2 separate regions of the Homo sapiens genome follow, and region 2 is linked to region 1. The links come from fine-mapping of genetic effects on gene expression. A gene starts in region 1. The other region holds a variant in brackets. All regions are shown on one strand. Distances are from middle to middle.

Region 1 (8,334 bases):
ATTATCCATTTCTTCTTCCCTTTCCTCCTGCCCTTAAAAAATTACACAGTTCAGTGGGTAAAGTTGGATGACCTTTGGACATTATAACATGGCTACTTTTTTTGCAAAATTAAATCAGAAGTGGATGTGACTTTCTCAAATTGCATTCTTGGTGGGGCACAGTGGCTCATGCCTATAATCTCAACACTTTGGGAAGCTGAAGCGGGAGTATCACTTGAGACCAGAGGTTTAAGACCAGCCTAGGCAACATAGTGAGACCCCATCTCTACAAAAAATATTGGCCAGATGTGGTGGCATGGACCTATAATCCCAGTTACTTAGGAGGCTGAGGTGGGAGGATGGCTTGAGCCTGGGAGATTGAGGTTACAGTCAGTGGTGATTGCACCGCTGCCCTCCAGCCTAGGTGACAGAGCAAGACCCTGTCTTTTTTGGAGAAAGTCTTGCTCTATCACCTAGGCTGGAGCGCAGCGGTGCAATCACGGCTCACTGCAACCCCAAACCCCCAGGAGACAGGGTCTTGCTCTATCACAGGCTGTAGTGAGCCAAGATCAGGCCGCTGCACTGTAGCCTGAGCAACACAGTGAGATTCCATCTCAAATAATAATAATAATTAAGCTTAATGAAACCCCATAGTTAACAAGAAAATATAAAATTGTGTTCCTTATTTACTTAAAGTAGGGAAGTATGTAATACTTTGAAATACCTTTATAAAATGAAGTTTGGTCAATTAAGAGAACATTCTTTGTTTTTCAAACCTCTTTCTGCTTTCAACCTCACACAAAACTATAGGCAATTCAATAAAGGTATCACTTTACATTCCTACATAATTAATTTAGTATATTTCTCATTCATCTGAGAGCATGAATAAAATGTAAAAACAATATTTGGTCAAGAAACACTGCAATGCTAACTATAAGCAAGTTTATACATGAAATAAAAATCTCTAGTTTTAAAGAGATGTAATTTTTCAAAGTATTAAAAATGAATGGAAACTCTAGGACTTTTTTATCTTATTTTAAACTTCTATTTCTTTTTCATTTTATATATTTTTCCTTTTATTCTTAAATACTCTCCCATGCAAAAACCATAGGACTTTATCACCACAAAACCCTAGTGGGAATCAAGCAGTGAAAAAAAGCTTGAGTTCAGACTGTTACAACAATGACCAAACAATATGCCATGGTAATTTAAACTGAAGGAAAATGGACATTTAACTTGCCTCTAAGAGACCTGGGTTAACACCAACATAGGCTGTAGATTCAACCTAATGAGACTGGTCCCACTATAATCTATAAGAAATAGAATAAAACAGAAAGTATGGGAAATTTAATCAGCAGGAGCTAATGGAGAACTGCAAACAAAGTCAAAATTTGAAAATGGCACAAGTCAAAGATCCTACAGAAGGGCAATCATAAAAGCGACAGTAGTAATCTTTTTACCCAAAAAGGTTCTCCCAGATAGCAATCACTATCAACAGTGTCATCTTCCAATGTGAAGGTCAACAAAAAGAGAAGAGACAATATGGAGTATTAAAATGCAGAGTCATGAAAACAAATGAGCTGATATGACATCAAAGACATAATTTGGAAATGTCATTTCAAAAACACAATAGAAAAACAAGAGGAAGAAAGGCAATTAGTTAAAACACTACCTCATCACTACCATCACTATGCCTCCCTTTTAGCCAAGGAGTTGCATTCACACACTGACCTTGTAATTTCCATCTTCTCATGATTTTGAGGCAAACCTACTCCAAAGTGTTTTTCACATATGCATCTCACCAGCAAAAGCATTTCAAAACCAAAATATTAAAATTCCTCAGCTGAACTAAAATGAAAGAGGACATTTATGAAAGCTCAGTAAAAAGAATATGGAGATAAACTGGAAGGAAATCAGAAAATGTTTTTTGCAAAAAAATATGTCTATTAAGTATCAGACTAGACAACTAGTCTGAAAGGTAAAAGTGGAGGAATAAAAAACTCAGCACAAAAAGTTCTACACGTGTAAAATGTGAAGGATATACACATGAATTAGAGGAAGAGTCTCCGGGCTGGACAGCACAGTATTAAGAAAAATTCTTTACTAACCAGATTAAGGATAATTTGAGTTAATACATTGTTTCCACCTTTCTTCCTGGTATGTTCCTTAATCATGTGTCTAAATGTGAAAGGAAAATTTCTAATTTCCCTACATTTTCAAATATCCTGAAATCTCCAAAGAGCCTCCTTCTTGTAAAGCAATTGCTTTTGAAAAGTACTTTCAAGCAGTTTATCATCAATCTCATTTTAAAACGTTTACTTTTGAGAAAGATAATTCATTATAATTTCCTGAAATACTGAGCATCCTAAATTTTTCCAAATTAGCGGATGGGGATGGGAGTTAAGGGGGTTGGGGAGGCTGGCTGCTGGCCCAAATTTCCAGAATCTGATTTCCCTTTCCAAGAATCACAAGAGATAAGAAAAAAGAATTCAGGATAGCAAATAATCCATCTCATCTTAGTACCAAACAGTAAGTACACACATCTCCCACCAGTCTCCCACTCACCCTAGCCTCTCAGCCTAGGCTAGCCTCCATGCTTTTCCCAGTCTACTCCTGAATCGCTCCTAAGCTTTTGTCTCCGGGTCTTTGCTCTTGCTGCTCCCTAGCCTAGAGCACTTTTACCCCAGTATAGCTAAAGAAACAGCACCTTCACCTCTGTTGGGTTTTTCCTCCAGTGTTAGCTTCTCCATGAGGCCTTCTCAGGGCACTTAAAATTAACCCCTCCCCAAACCCCTATTATTCTATCTCCCTGACTCATTTTTTTCTTTCACATCGCTTACCACTACATCAAGTATTTTACCTATTTATCTGTCTAGAAATGAATTCCATACAGACAGGAATTGTTTGGTCTGTTTTGCTCCCAGTACTTAACAGTGTAGTAAGTGCTCAACAGGGTATCTGTCAAATAAATGAATGTATGAATGAATAAACAAATGAATGGAAGCACATGGTTCCTTCTCCCTCCCAAACCTCAAGAGTCTCAAATGCTGTCAGGTACCAAAAAGTCATGAAGCCCTCTCCTTTCTGGTGAAGCACTACCATCACCAGTGTATTCCTTGATGTTAAATTTCGAAAGAAACATCATGTGACATTTTTCCAGTTACGTGCCACTTTTAAATACTTTTCTAGTGTCCTCTTCTGTTGTCAACATCTGATGTAAAAGCCAAGTACATATTCCAGTTTGAGCACATCAGAAACTGCTACACCAACTAGTAAAACACGTAAAACCATCAATGAATAAGAGAAAGTATTTGTGTTCTAGGCAAAATGGACAAAATAAGGCCAAAGCTACAAATATTAGAAGGAGCAAAATTAATGTACAGAAAGAATGACAGAATTTTTTTTTCTAATCTAGGAAGTCATTTGATTCTAAAAAGGACATACTATATAAAGAAAGAATACCTTCCCCAGGCACAACATTGGGAATCAAAACTGCCTTAATTCAATGTATGTAGCTCTAGAAAGGAAGCTGTTCACAGCTTCTAGCCCCATACTCAATTTCTTGCAAGTTAAACTGGAATACTTACCTTTCTTACAGAGAGACTACGTGTGTTTAAGTGCTTTGACTTGCAGGAAAACGAAAACAACAAAATAAAAAACACAGTACTAAATAATTAACTGCAAAACAACGTTATTGCTTCCCAAACACGGTCATACGCTCCGCTTCTTTCATGCCCCCATTCCCTGTTCGCTTGATTTATGTTTCAGTCGCAAAACAAGTATTCAGAGTGCTTTTGGAAACTGACACTTAAGGATAATGCCCATTTCAACCTGATGTGAACATTTGGGTCCCCAAGGCTGCCATGGGCTCTAGTTTCCCAGCCTCGGTCCCAAGGTTCCGATCATGGTGGCTGCACCTCGCCTCAGGCCTGGTCCAGACCCAGTACTCTCGCCACGGAAGGAGTCTCCTCCGTCCAGATGCTCTGTGGGGAAGGCAGGAGCGCACCTCCCAGGGACCAGGTGTGGACAGGAGAGCCGGCAGGAGCAGCTGTCTGGCCGCAGCAGCTGTTACCGGGCCACCCCGAGACTGGGCGGGTGTCTGGCGCGGAGAAGCAAGCAGAGGAAGGCGAGCCCTCCAGCTCCGAGCAAGCCGGCCTGACACTGCCCACCCCACAACCCTCCTGCCTTGTTCGGCTCCCCTCGCAATGCCAAGAGGCCCTGGCCTAGGGGCTTCTCGGCTCCTCGCGGCCGTGACGCGCCAGGGCCCTCAGCGCCCCTCGCCCAGGAGGAGGCTCCCTCCGGCCCTGCACCTGACCTGTCCCGTCGCCTGACGGCCCAAGCCGGCCGGAGCGGCCTGTGGGTGTCCATGCGGCCGGGCCAGCTCGGGCAGGAGGAGCAGGGGCGCGAACGCGGACCGGAGACACAGGCGGCCCGGGACGCGGCGGCGGGGCCGGGGCGCGGAGCAGAGCCGGGCAGGGGAGCGACACGGAACGGCTGGTTACCTGCGGTCCGGGACAGGGAGTCTCAGAACCCCAGTCAGTCCTCAGCCTCAACAACACAAGATGGCCGACACGTCGCCACGCACGTCACGTGACCGCGCTCCCGCTCCGCCACGCCCCCTGCTCCGCCCCCGCCCCTTCCCGCTTCCCTCCCCACTCTCCAGTCTCCCACGACATCCTTCCTTTCCGCCACCACCCGCCCCTCTGCCCAGACACGCCCCTGCCCGAGACCCGGATGAAAGGTTGGAAGAGGGCGGGGCCGTGGCAGTGCGCAGGCTCCCGCTGACCCCTTGGCAGCAGCCGGGTACCTGCCCTTGAGTTGAGTGGTGTTGGTGTCCAGGGTTGGGCCCGGACCAGGCACCGTGTGACTCACTGTCCTGTACGCCCAGAGCTCTTTTGCAGTTCAAAAGCCTCTGCATCACTTGCGGGCTGGTTTTCCAAATTAGAACTTTTCCACAGCTTTTAGTCCGGCATTTTTCTTCGCAGTTGCCATCCTAGAGCGAATGGGAAAGCCGCAAAAGCTGAAATTCAAAGCAGTTTCTCTACTTGTTAACAGTTCTGGTAGAACTGGGAATTCATTTCAGAGTGTTGTACTGGGACAGCTGGAAAGGACTTGAGAGCTCTGATTCCTTCCTAGGACATCTGGGGCTATAACCCTTTTACCTAGAGATGAACTATTTTGGAATTGACAGATAAAATACAAGACACCCAGCAATATTTGGGGCACACACTGAAAAATTGTTCGTTGTTTTTCTGAAATTCAAATTTAATTGGGCGTCCTGTGTTTGCTAAATCTAGCAACTCTATCCTTAGGCATCCCATTCTTGCCTGTGTCTCCAACTTCTTCCTTCCTACAGGATCCTTCCTGTCAGCTTTAAAGATTACTTGTGTCTCCCATCTTAAAATGGAATGTTAAAAACTCCAATTCTCATGCCGGGCGCAGTGGCTCACACCTGTAATCTCAGCACTTTGGGAGGCGGAGGTGGGCGGATCACGAGGTCAGGAGATCGAGACCAGACCATCCTGGCTAACACGGTGAAATCCCGTCTCTACTAAAAATACAAAAAAAAATGTAGCCGGGCGTGGTGGCACGCACCTGCAGTCGCAGCTAGTCGGGAGGCTGAGGCAGGAGAATCGCTTGAACTGGGGAGGCAGACGTTGCAGTGAGCCGATATCGCGCCACTGCACTCCAGCCTGGCGACAGAGCAAGACTCCGTCTAAAACAAAAACAAAAACCTCCAATTCTCGGCCGGGCAGTGGCTCACGCCTGTAATCCCAGCACTTTGGGAGGCCGAGGCGGCGGATCACCTGAGGTTGGGAGTTTGAGACCAGCCTGACCAACATGGAGAAACCCCGTCTCTACTAAAAATACAAAATTAGCCGAGCGTGGTGGCGCATGCCTGTAATCCCAGCTACTTGGGTAGCTGAGGCAGGAGAATCGCTTGAACCCGGGATGCTGAGATTGCGGTGAGCCAAGATCGCGCCACTGCACGCCAGCCTGGGCAACAAGAGTGAAAATCCGTCTCGAAAAAAACAAATAAACAAACAAACAATCAAAAACACCAATTCTCCCTCCTGCGACCCTGTTCCCTTTCAAAGCCAAGCTGCACCAAAGAATTGTTTATATGCACTTTCTCCATTTCCACACCTGGCATGCAATCATCAACCACACCGATGTGGCTTCTGTCCTTTCCTATCTGCCTATTGCTTGCCCTAAGAACACCCCATCCTACAGGTTGATAACTGGAGTCTTTCAGTCCTCATCTTGACTTCGTGTTTCCCTGTCTTCAATATGATTGGCCTCTTCCTACTTTCTGAAACACTTTATTTATTTATTTATTTATTTTTGAGACAGTTTCGCTCTTGTTGCCCAGGCTGGAGTGCAATGGCGTGATCTCCGCTCACCGCAACCTCCGCCTCCCAGGTTCAAGCGATTCTCCTGCCTCACCCTCCCAAGTAACTGAGATTACAGGCATATGCCACCACGCCCGGCTAATTTTGTATTTTTAGTAGAGACGGGGTTTCTCCATATTGATCAGGCTGGTCTTGAACTCCCGACCTCAGGTGATCCGCCCACCTCGGCCTCCCAAAGTGCTGGGATTACAGACATGAGCCACCGCTCCCGGCCTTCTGAAACACTTTCTTCCCTTGACTTTTATACCCTTACCGCTCAAAGTGGTACAGTAGCATCAACATCACGTGGAGACTTGTTAGAAATACAGAAACTCAAAGGAGCCCTTCACAGTCCCATTCTGCAGAATTCTACCCCCATAGCTTGGGAAAACATAGAGAGATCCCATTTCTAAAAAAAAATAAATACATAATAATTAGCCAGGCGTGGTGGCGTGCACCTGCAGTCCTAGCTACTTGGGAGGCTGAGGATCACCAGCCCAGGAATACAAAGCTACAATGAGCTATGATCATGCCACTGCACTCCAGCCTGGGCAAAAGAGCAAGACCCTGTATCTAAAACAAACAATCAAAAAGAACTCTACCCATCATCCATGTTGTTCTCTTCTCCTTGATCTTCCCCCTGAACTAAGTGCTCCAGATAGGCCCATGTTAAAAGATTCGTAAACATGACATTATGTTTTAGCCTTTGCACATGCTGTTCCATCCTGCTGCAATGCCGTTCCCAACACTTACCCACTTCTCCCCAACCTGCAACTCCTGCCAGTCCATGTGTTACTGCCTCTGTGCCTCCATTAGACCAAAGAATTTACCCCTTGAGCTGTTATTTTTAAGGAAAAAAGTAATACTAATACTTGTTATGTACTGACCACCCCATTAAAAACTTTCCTTGCACTGTCTCATGTGATCCTAGTAAGAGCGCTATGGAGCAATCCAACCAGGCTTCTGAGAGAAGTGCTTACCATATCCAAATCTCAACCAGGATTTCCAAGCCCAGGCTGGCAAATTGTAGAACCCATGTCCCTAACCAACTTGTCATGCCACCTCTCTGATGCCATGCCACCTGTACATTGCCTATACATATATTTTTTAAATTAAGATATAATTTGCACACAATAAAATTTAGCACTTTTAGTGCACAGTTCTGCAACTTGAGACAAATATATACAAGTGGCCAGGCACGATGGCTCACGCCTGTAATACCAGCACTTTGGGAGGCTGAGGCAGTCAGATCACCTGAGTTCAGGAGTTCAAGACCAGCCTGGCCAACATGGTGAAACCCCATCTCTACTAAAAATACAAAAAAAAGTAGCTGAGCATGATAATGTAGAACTGTAGTTCCAGCTACTTGGGAGGCTGAGGTGGGAGGATCACTCGAGCCTGGGAAGCAGAGGTTACAGTGAACTGAGATTGTGTGCCACTGCACTCCAGCCTGGGTGATAGAGTGAGACCCTGTCTCAAAAAAAAAAAAAAAAAAAAAAGCTGGAGAAAATCCCAGCTTTTAACCATTGTGAGTGCTGCATTATTCCATCCAGCAACCTCTGCAGCTGGTATTGCCCTGACACACAGTAAATGCTCAACAAACACCAATAAAACCCAATCGATTCTTGATTATCTACTCTTCAGGAAGGGTGCTTTCCTTTTCTCCTTTTAGTAACTCTGTCTTTCCAGTGTTTCACTAAATAGTGGTATTAAATTACAACGTAGACTGATGCATGCTTTTGTCAGGGATAATAAAGTTTTAGCCGTAGTACACCACTGATAGAAACAGAAGTTGAGAATAATAGATCATTTGAGGATGGGAGGAGGGTAAGGAGTTTAATCCAAAACAAGTTTAATTTGTTATGAGCACATAGCTAGGCGAGGTGGCTCACACCTGTAATCCCAGCACGTTGGGAGGCTGAGGCGGGAGGATTGCTTGAGCCTGGGAGGTCAGGGCTGCAGT
Region 2 (8,334 bases), 140 kb before region 1:
GTGGGAAGATCGCTTGAGCTCAGGAGTTTGAGGGCAGCCCAGGTAATGCAGTGACACCCGTCTCAAAAAAAAAAAAATTTTTTTTTAAATTAGCCAGGCATGGTGGCACACACCTGTAGTCCTAGCTACATTCCAGCCCAGGAGACACAGCAAGATCTTATCAAAAAAGATAAAAGCACAGAGATGGAAAACAGGAGAAAAAACATGAGAAAATCAAAATCAGTCCTGGGAGAAACATGTAAATAACAGGAACTCAAGAAAAACAAAACAGCAGCTATAAAGCAAGCTGAGAGTGTCCTGATTGGAACAGGTTAGAGGCCCCCAGAAAGGATGCCTCCAGGGATGATAATGAAATAAAATCATCTTGGGTTTTTCTACGTAAGAAATATGTGAAATGTGTATTAAGAGGCACCCTTATAAAGGGTACAGGGAGACTTAAAAGTTCCAAGAAAATTAAATGAAAATACAAATGAAGGCAGGGCACGGTGGCTCATGTCTGTTATTCCAGCACTTTGGGAGGCCGAGGCGGGTGGATCACTTGAGGTCAGGAGTTTGAAACCAGCCTGGCCAACATGGTGAAACTCCGTCTCTACTAAAAATACTTAAAAAAAAAAAAAAAAAAAAAAATAGCTGGTGGTGGTGGCAAGTGCCTGTAATCCCAGCTACTCGGGAGGCTGAGGCAGGAGAATCACTTGAACTCAGGAGGTGGAGGCTGCAGTGAGCCGAGATCGCGCCACTGCACTCCTGCCTGGGTGACAGAGCGAGCCTCAGTCTCTAAAAGAAAAAAAAGAAAAAGAAAACACGAATGAAATAATTATTAACTTCTGGTAGACAGGAGAAGACCTGTGATTCCTTGTCATTACCACTATTATTATCTTCTCATTCAGTAGGGACCAAAATTAGTGGAATAATTTCTAGCTTTGAAGGGAGAGACATACTCTGTTCTGCATCCATTTGTTGATAACCTTTTAGAGAAAGATGATTCCAGAGAAAGTTCAATTCTTTTTTTTTTTTTTCTTAAATAAAGGTGGGAAATAAGGTCATCTTCAAGTGTGAAGAAACATCTTATCTTACTGGATGACTTCAAGCACACTACCTGGTAAACACATATAGACAATTTCTATTTCTCCTTGTGTATCCAAAGCCCTCCTAATTTCAGTGAACCACATGACCCAGATCCAAAAATGACAACTTACATTCTCTAACAAATTGACTGCTCTACCTCAAATCATATCCACATAAAGCATCTTCAAGACTCTGCTATATTATGTCACCTTTTCAGAGGCCTTCTCAGAACACACTACCTAAATTTGGACAATCCACCACACCATCATTATCCCTGACTCCCAACACTCTCCCTACCCACCTTCCCTTGTTACCTCTCTGACACTTATCAACCTCTCATACGCTTCATTTTCTACTTTTCTCTTCTCAATCAGAGGGTCAGCTTCATGAATGCAGAAAATCTTGCCTGTTTTAGACTCAGCTATATCCCCAGACCTTAAGTGAGTAGGTACTCAGTAAACATGTGTTGAATGAATGAATGAATGAATGAATGAATGAGCACCGAATGGCATACTGAACCAAACTATGAAAATTATTCATTTTCTCCTCTCTGTCAAAAGCTGTGTTATTCCCCTTCCCTTTTATACTCTTTTGTATCCTTCCTACCCTAATGATGAACTACAGGATATACACTTAAAAGCAGAGGTACTTTATTTCTGTCACATTTTTCTAGACTAGTCAGGGAACCCAGTGTCTTTAGAGAAAAACATATTCTGCTTTCTAGACATCAGACTTATAAAAGATTATCTGCACACAACTCACCCACAATTTTGAACAACCCGTGTAGTTTTATTTATGAGGTCTTCTCAAGAACTACAGTAAAATGTTTAAGAAAACTGAACAGTTATGTTACTCAATCTTCATGTTATACCTATGAGATCCTTCACATTTGCTAGGGTAACCAAATTATGGGCTGAAGTTTAATAATGAACGTCCAATTCAGACACACAACAATTCTGACAGTAATTGTCCTCAGTAACCACTAACCCATAATGCATGCTAGATATTCTGGAACATCGCTTGACTAGATCCCTTTTACTTTAAAATTTTACCTCTTCTCGAAGCTGCCGTTCTCGTTCTTCCTCTAGTTTTTGGATTTCAGCCAACGACAGCGTGGCCTGGGACTGACATGCTGTTGTATTGGACTGCTGGCCCCACGTTGAAGAAGAAGGAAGCTAACAAAAAAGGGAAGGCCAGAAAGTTCATGAGGAAATGTGGACAGGAAACAAAGAAGCAATAATGCATTATGTATACCCAGAACAAATGCATTTCTCTCAACTCCATTTACCACATTCAATTCAAATTTCCTTCTTCATTGCTTTTACTTACTATCCTCTCAGCTTCTTTTGCTTAAGTTTTTGTCACTGCTCCAAACCTAAGTTTATTTTAAAACAACTTATAATACACATACACACTTACATTTCATCTACCTCTTGGTGACAACAAATTTGTTACATCTGGTACTGACATAAACAGCAATATACAACCATAAAGAGGAGTAAACAAAAGAATCACTAAATTGGCTTAAGGATTTTTTAATTGACGAAAGCAACAAAGGACATGATATGCTGCTGTCCAGTGAAAGTGTTAAGGACACGATTTCTGAGGGTAGCACCATGAGATTTCTCATCTCATGAGAGATGCTGGCATAGTTCTTGATCAGCCTTTATGAAAGGGAGCCACTGTTAACCAGGCTGTAGCTTCTAGTCATGAGCATTAAGCTGCTTTTAATCAATAATTTTATTTTTCCCATCCCTTAAGATTATTGACTAAAATAGAGTATAAATATCTAGGTCCTGAATATTTCAATATTCTCAAAGCCTGATTATTCTCAGAGAACCCCTTGCTCTTCCTGGCCAGAAAAAGACACACTTTTAATACTGAGGCATCAAACAAGCGAACACAATAAAAAAGAAACCTAACCAGACTTAAAAAATGTATTTAATAAAAATAATACATGAACATAGATCAAAACAAATAAAATGCCAAACAGTCCCCAAAAGAATGGACCTACAGCAGAAATCTATAACAGTGGATATTGATAGGATAAAAGGTATAAACAGTTTAAACCATCACTGATACTGCCAAACAACTCTTCAAATGAATGTCTTCAACACTACTGAACATAATCAACTCTTAACATTTTTTAGCCAATATGACAGACAATAGGGCATTTCTCTCAAAATGCACCTGCCCTGGGGTGGGGGAGGGGTGCAGAGGGAAGTTAACAAAGACTGGGGGAGGGAGGTGTTGAGAGGCAAAACTGAGCAAAAATTAACTTTGTCTCCACAGGAAATGACTCATTTGAAGGCACTATCAAGATCAAGTAAGGCAGTAGATCTCAAACTGGCAGCATAACCTGAAGGGACCTATAAAAATGTAGAGGCCCTGGCTCCACCACACCTAATCAATCAGAAGATCAGAAGGGAAGGCAGGAGAATCAGCATATTTTAATCATTCTGATGCAGCCAGTAACCACTGATGTTGTCTAAAATCACAGTAGATGTGTCACCCCATGGTAATCAGGAAACAATCTTTCAAGCCCGCTTCAGCAGAACTCAGCCAGCACTGGGAATAGAGGCAGTGCCTCCAGAAATGGCCATCTATCCTCACGGGCACCTCTGAGAATCTTCCTATTGCTGTGCCAAAATATATTTATTTTCTCTCTCCTCCCTGGCCTGACTCCCTATTTCTCTCTATATACACACACATACATATGCGTGTATATATATATATA[C/T]ACATGCACACACACATACACACATATACATATACATACACACGCTCTTTCTCTAGGTATATATACACACAAAATATATACTCTATATTTCATAGGTCTGTTCTACAGACCAAAGTTAAGTCTTCCTTATATAGACTTATGTCTGCTGATAGCTTTCATTTTCCTTAAGTCTTCTTTGTACATCGGAAATAATATCCCAGAGCTCTTTCAACATTGCCTCATGACACTTACCAGCCCACCCTATAATGCCCACTCAGGAGAACTGCAGTGTGTCAATCATGCTTCTCAGAACAAACTTTTGACAAATCAAAAGCAAATAGGGACCCCCGAATGCCTAATGTCCTTCATTGATTTTTAAAACTATACTCTTCTTGTTCTGCGCTGACATTGCTACCTTACATTTCAACACTGGTTTTGCTTTAAGAAATAACTGTTTCACTGTCGGAATGACAGCATGAGGAGCTGCGTGGACCTGCTCCCTGGCAAAACTGGTGAAGATCATTTTTAAAATAATCATTTAAACTCTCTGGCTGGCAGCAGGGCCCCACACCTGTAATCCCAGCACTTTGGGAGGCCGAGGCAGGCGGATCACTTGAGGTCAGGAGTTTGACATCAGCCTGGCCAACATGGCAAAATCCCATTTCTACTAAAAATAAAAAAAAAAAGTAGCTGGGTGTGGTGACGCACACCTTTAATCCAGCTACTTAGGAGGCTGAGGCCAGGAGGATCGCTTGAACTCAGGAGGCGGAGGTTGCAGTGAGCTGAGATCGTGTCACTGCACTCCAGCCTGGGCGACAGAGCCAGACCCTGTCTCAAAAAAATAAATAAAGTCTCTGGAAATACTCCTAAGGGCATACAGCAAATGAAAAAAAGTTTATTCAAGAATATTTGCTAAAACTCAGTAAGAACAGCAAGAGTTGGTGATACTTAAACCAAGACCTACTCTCCTTCTCTCCTCCCAGCTTAATGAGACAGAAACTCCACTCTAGACTGGTACAGTCAAGACACGGCTTCCCTTCTCCCCTCAGCCATCAGTCAGCAGGCTTTCTTCCTGGGAAAAGCACATCGGTGTGTCTCACCCTGATGGCAGTCACCTGTGACAAATGCTAAGTTCCAAACAAGTGCAACAGATGTGGAGGCTCTCTTCTTGTGCCCAGCCCCACTCATAGGATGGAAACTTGACCACAGCAACACCAACACTAGGGTCGTGATCACCAATGCAGCTGGCCGGGCCAAGCCATCAGGAGAGGCAAGCCAAGAATACCTGAGGCTACTATTCTGCCCACCCTTCAGCAAATGTTAGAGGAAAGCAGACCACTGTGCCCACTTCCAGAGCTGACTGAGAGATTTTTGTCTGAGGGTAGTGGTGTAGGAAACAGGTAGAAAACAGAAAGCTCCAGGTTTCTTCCCAAAGGAACTGACTTTATTTGCAACAGACAGTGGATGAGTTCAAGCCTAATGGTGTTTTCAGAAACAGTAGAAGTTGGGATAAAAGGCAATTAGGAGGAGACTGGTAGATTCATAGGAGATACAGGCTAAACTGTAGGAGGCTGCTACCTTATCTGAGAAAACTAGTTAAAGAAAACTAGAAGAAATCCTCCCGGAGTCAAAACAAATTTCATATATAGACCTCAGGAGCTATTTCTTCAAAGAAACCTGAATTTAAGTGGATCAGTCTGTCAGTGTATGCCCCAAGGGATTTTTTTTTTTTTTTTTTTTTTGAGACAGGGTCTCACTCCGTCACCCAGGCTGGAGTGCAGTGGTATGATTTTGGCCCACTATAACCTCTGTCTCCCAGGCTCAAGTGATCTTCCCACCTCAGCCTCCTGAGTAGCTAGGACCACAGGCACACATCACCACGCCTGAATAATTTATTTATATATATATTTATATTTATATATATTTATATTTATATATATTTATATTTATATATATAAATATATAAGTATATATATGTATATATATATATATATATATATATATATATATATATATATATATATATATATATATATATATATATGTAGAGATGGGGTTTCACCATGTTGCCCAGGCTGGTACTGAATTCCTGAGCTCCAGCGAACCACCAGCCTCGGCCTCCCAAAGTGCTGGGATTATAGGCGTGAGCCACTGCACCCAGCCCAGGACAATTTTAACCCATTTCCCATCTGCCCCGAGAATATTTGCTGGCAGCATGTGCAGCTGCAGCGTTTACCCAGGGCTAACTCGCAGGTTTTTTTTCCTAGATCATTTGGCATCTGTTTTCTGTTCCAACAAGCTGTCCTAACTGCATCAGTGCTGTTTGGATATAATTCTCTGAAAAGCATTTAGGGGTAAGGTTAGGACTGTAATCCGAGAGTTATCTCGGGGTCAGCGCTGCAGCCACACGCACCACCAGGGATATTCTCAGGGCAAACGGGAAATGGGTTAAGAACAACAGAGCAATCAGCTAGCAATAAGTGGAGTGAAACAGCTGGGTGTGGAAAAGACAATCAAAGAGAGCCCTGCCAAACCCACGGTCACCTCGGAGTCACTCTGGGCACACCCAGTGCTATATCCCCAACATGGGCAAGAGCAAGGGCTTCAACATGGTCGGGGGGAGGAGGGGAGAACTGGATTCCACTAAAATAATCCATCCAGTCACAAAACAAATAAACAAACAAGTAAGAAAATCAAGCTGGGAAGGGCGGGTGGAGATACCCAGAGTTGCTAGAAGACATTATCAAAAAGTCCAGCTGCCAATAAAAAATTACGATACATGCAAGAAACAGGAAAGTATAACCCATACACTGGGGAAAAAAGCAGGCAACAAAAACTGCCTGTGAGAGTGAACAAGATGTCAGATTTCACAAAGACTTCGCATATGTTATAAAAGTTGTTCAGGGAACCTAAGGAAGCTATAACTAAAGTAGTAAAGGAAGGTATGATGACAGTGTCACACCAAATAAAGAATATTGATAAAGAGATAGATGATATTTTTTAAAAAACCAAAAGGAAATTCTGGAGTACCAAAGTATAATAACTGAAATTAAAAACTGCCCATCAACAGAGGATTGGATAAAGAAAATGTGGTGTTTATATAAGGCATGGAATGCTACTCAGCCACAAAAAAGAATGAAATCTTGTCTTTCACAGCAACACAGATGGAACTGGAGGCTATTGTCCTAAGTAAGGTAACCCAGAAACAGAAAGTCAAATACTGCATGTTCTCACTTATAAGTGGGGGCTAAACAAACAGGCACACAAAGTGGAATAATGGACACTGGAGACCCCCAAAGCTGGGAGAATACGAGGTGAGTAAGGGTTGAACAATCACCTACTGGGTACAATGCTCACTATTTAGGAGATAAGTACACGAAAAGCCTGGACTTCACCACTGTGCAATATATGCTATTAAGAAAACTACACTTGCATGCCCTAAATATATATAAAAAACTTTTAGTTAAAAAAAAAATCACTAGAGGTACACTATAGTGTATCTGAACTGGCAAAAGAAAGAAACTTAAAGATAGATCAATACAGATTACACAAAGAATAGAGAGAAGAACATGAAAACTGAAGAGAGCCTTAGAGAAATGAGACACCATTAAGTGCATGAAGTGCATCAACATAAGCATCACTCAAGTGCCTGAAGGAGAGAGAGAAAGGAACAGAACATACAATTGAAGAAATAATGGCTAAAAACTTCTCCAGTTTATGGAAAAACATTAATCTATACATCCAGGAAGCACCATGAATTCTGAGTAGATTAAACACAAGGAGATCCACAAACAGACACGTCATAGTAAAAATGCTGAAAGCCAGACTCAGTTTGGAAGTTACCTTTTTTCAAGAAGCCTCTCCAAACTTCCCAGATGGACAGTGGTTCTCACATTTTAGAGAGCATGGGTTTGTTTAAATACAAGATTTCTCAGTTCCACCCTTAGAGGTTCTGATTCAATAGGTCTGGGGTGCGAATCTGCACATCTCACAAGTTCCCAAGTGACGGAACTCTGAGAATGACTGACTCCATGCCACCTCTCCCACTATACTCACCATACTGTATTCTACTTGCCTGTTTATGTGTCTAACCTGTGAGCTACTTGAAGATAGGGGACACTAAACCTTACTGCGCACTGCAGACCCAGCATGAAGTTATGCAGAACCTGCCATAAGTCTGCTCCTCCCTTCCCAATTACTCCAATTCCATCAACAGTTCCACTATCTTCTCAGTCACTGAAACTTATCTGGCAGGCACCCCAGCTTCTGCCTTCCTCCCTCAGCTCCAGAGACTAATTAATTCTTGCTGACTGCTATCAGGCCAGCTCCCTCCTGCTGGCCTCTCCTATTCATTCACACCAGCACCAACACAGCCTCTTTACTAGGCTCCCAGTATTTACTTTCTCCTTATTAAAAAAAAAAAAAAAGTTTTGAATCCTCTTTAAAACAACACTTTGTATATATCACCTCTTAATGTAACTTTCAATAAATGCCTATGGCCAACTCTGTTTCAAGCCCTATATTCTAGTTCCCATTTACACATCTGAACGTTT

What was found. PIP is the estimated chance that this variant, and not a neighbour inherited with it, causes the effect.
Region 2: its variant is fine-mapped to the expression of GIGYF2 in whole blood (TOPMed, PIP above 0.99).

The regions. Positions count from the first base shown.
Region 1 is chr2:232,693,540-232,701,873 of GRCh38, reverse strand. GIGYF2 (GRB10 interacting GYF protein 2) reads right to left here and starts at 4,543. Exons shown (of 29, transcript NM_001103146.3): 1 at 4,482-4,543. RefSeq lists enhancers at 3,345-4,039, 4,040-4,736 and silencers at 4,241-4,570, 4,601-4,690.
Region 2 is chr2:232,833,755-232,842,088 of GRCh38, reverse strand. GIGYF2 (GRB10 interacting GYF protein 2) reads right to left here. Exons shown (of 29, transcript NM_001103146.3): 23 at 2,118-2,240. Among named protein-coding and RNA genes, the nearest start is that of SNORC, 32 kb to the left of the region's middle. The variant C/T (reference allele first, on the strand shown) is at 3,803.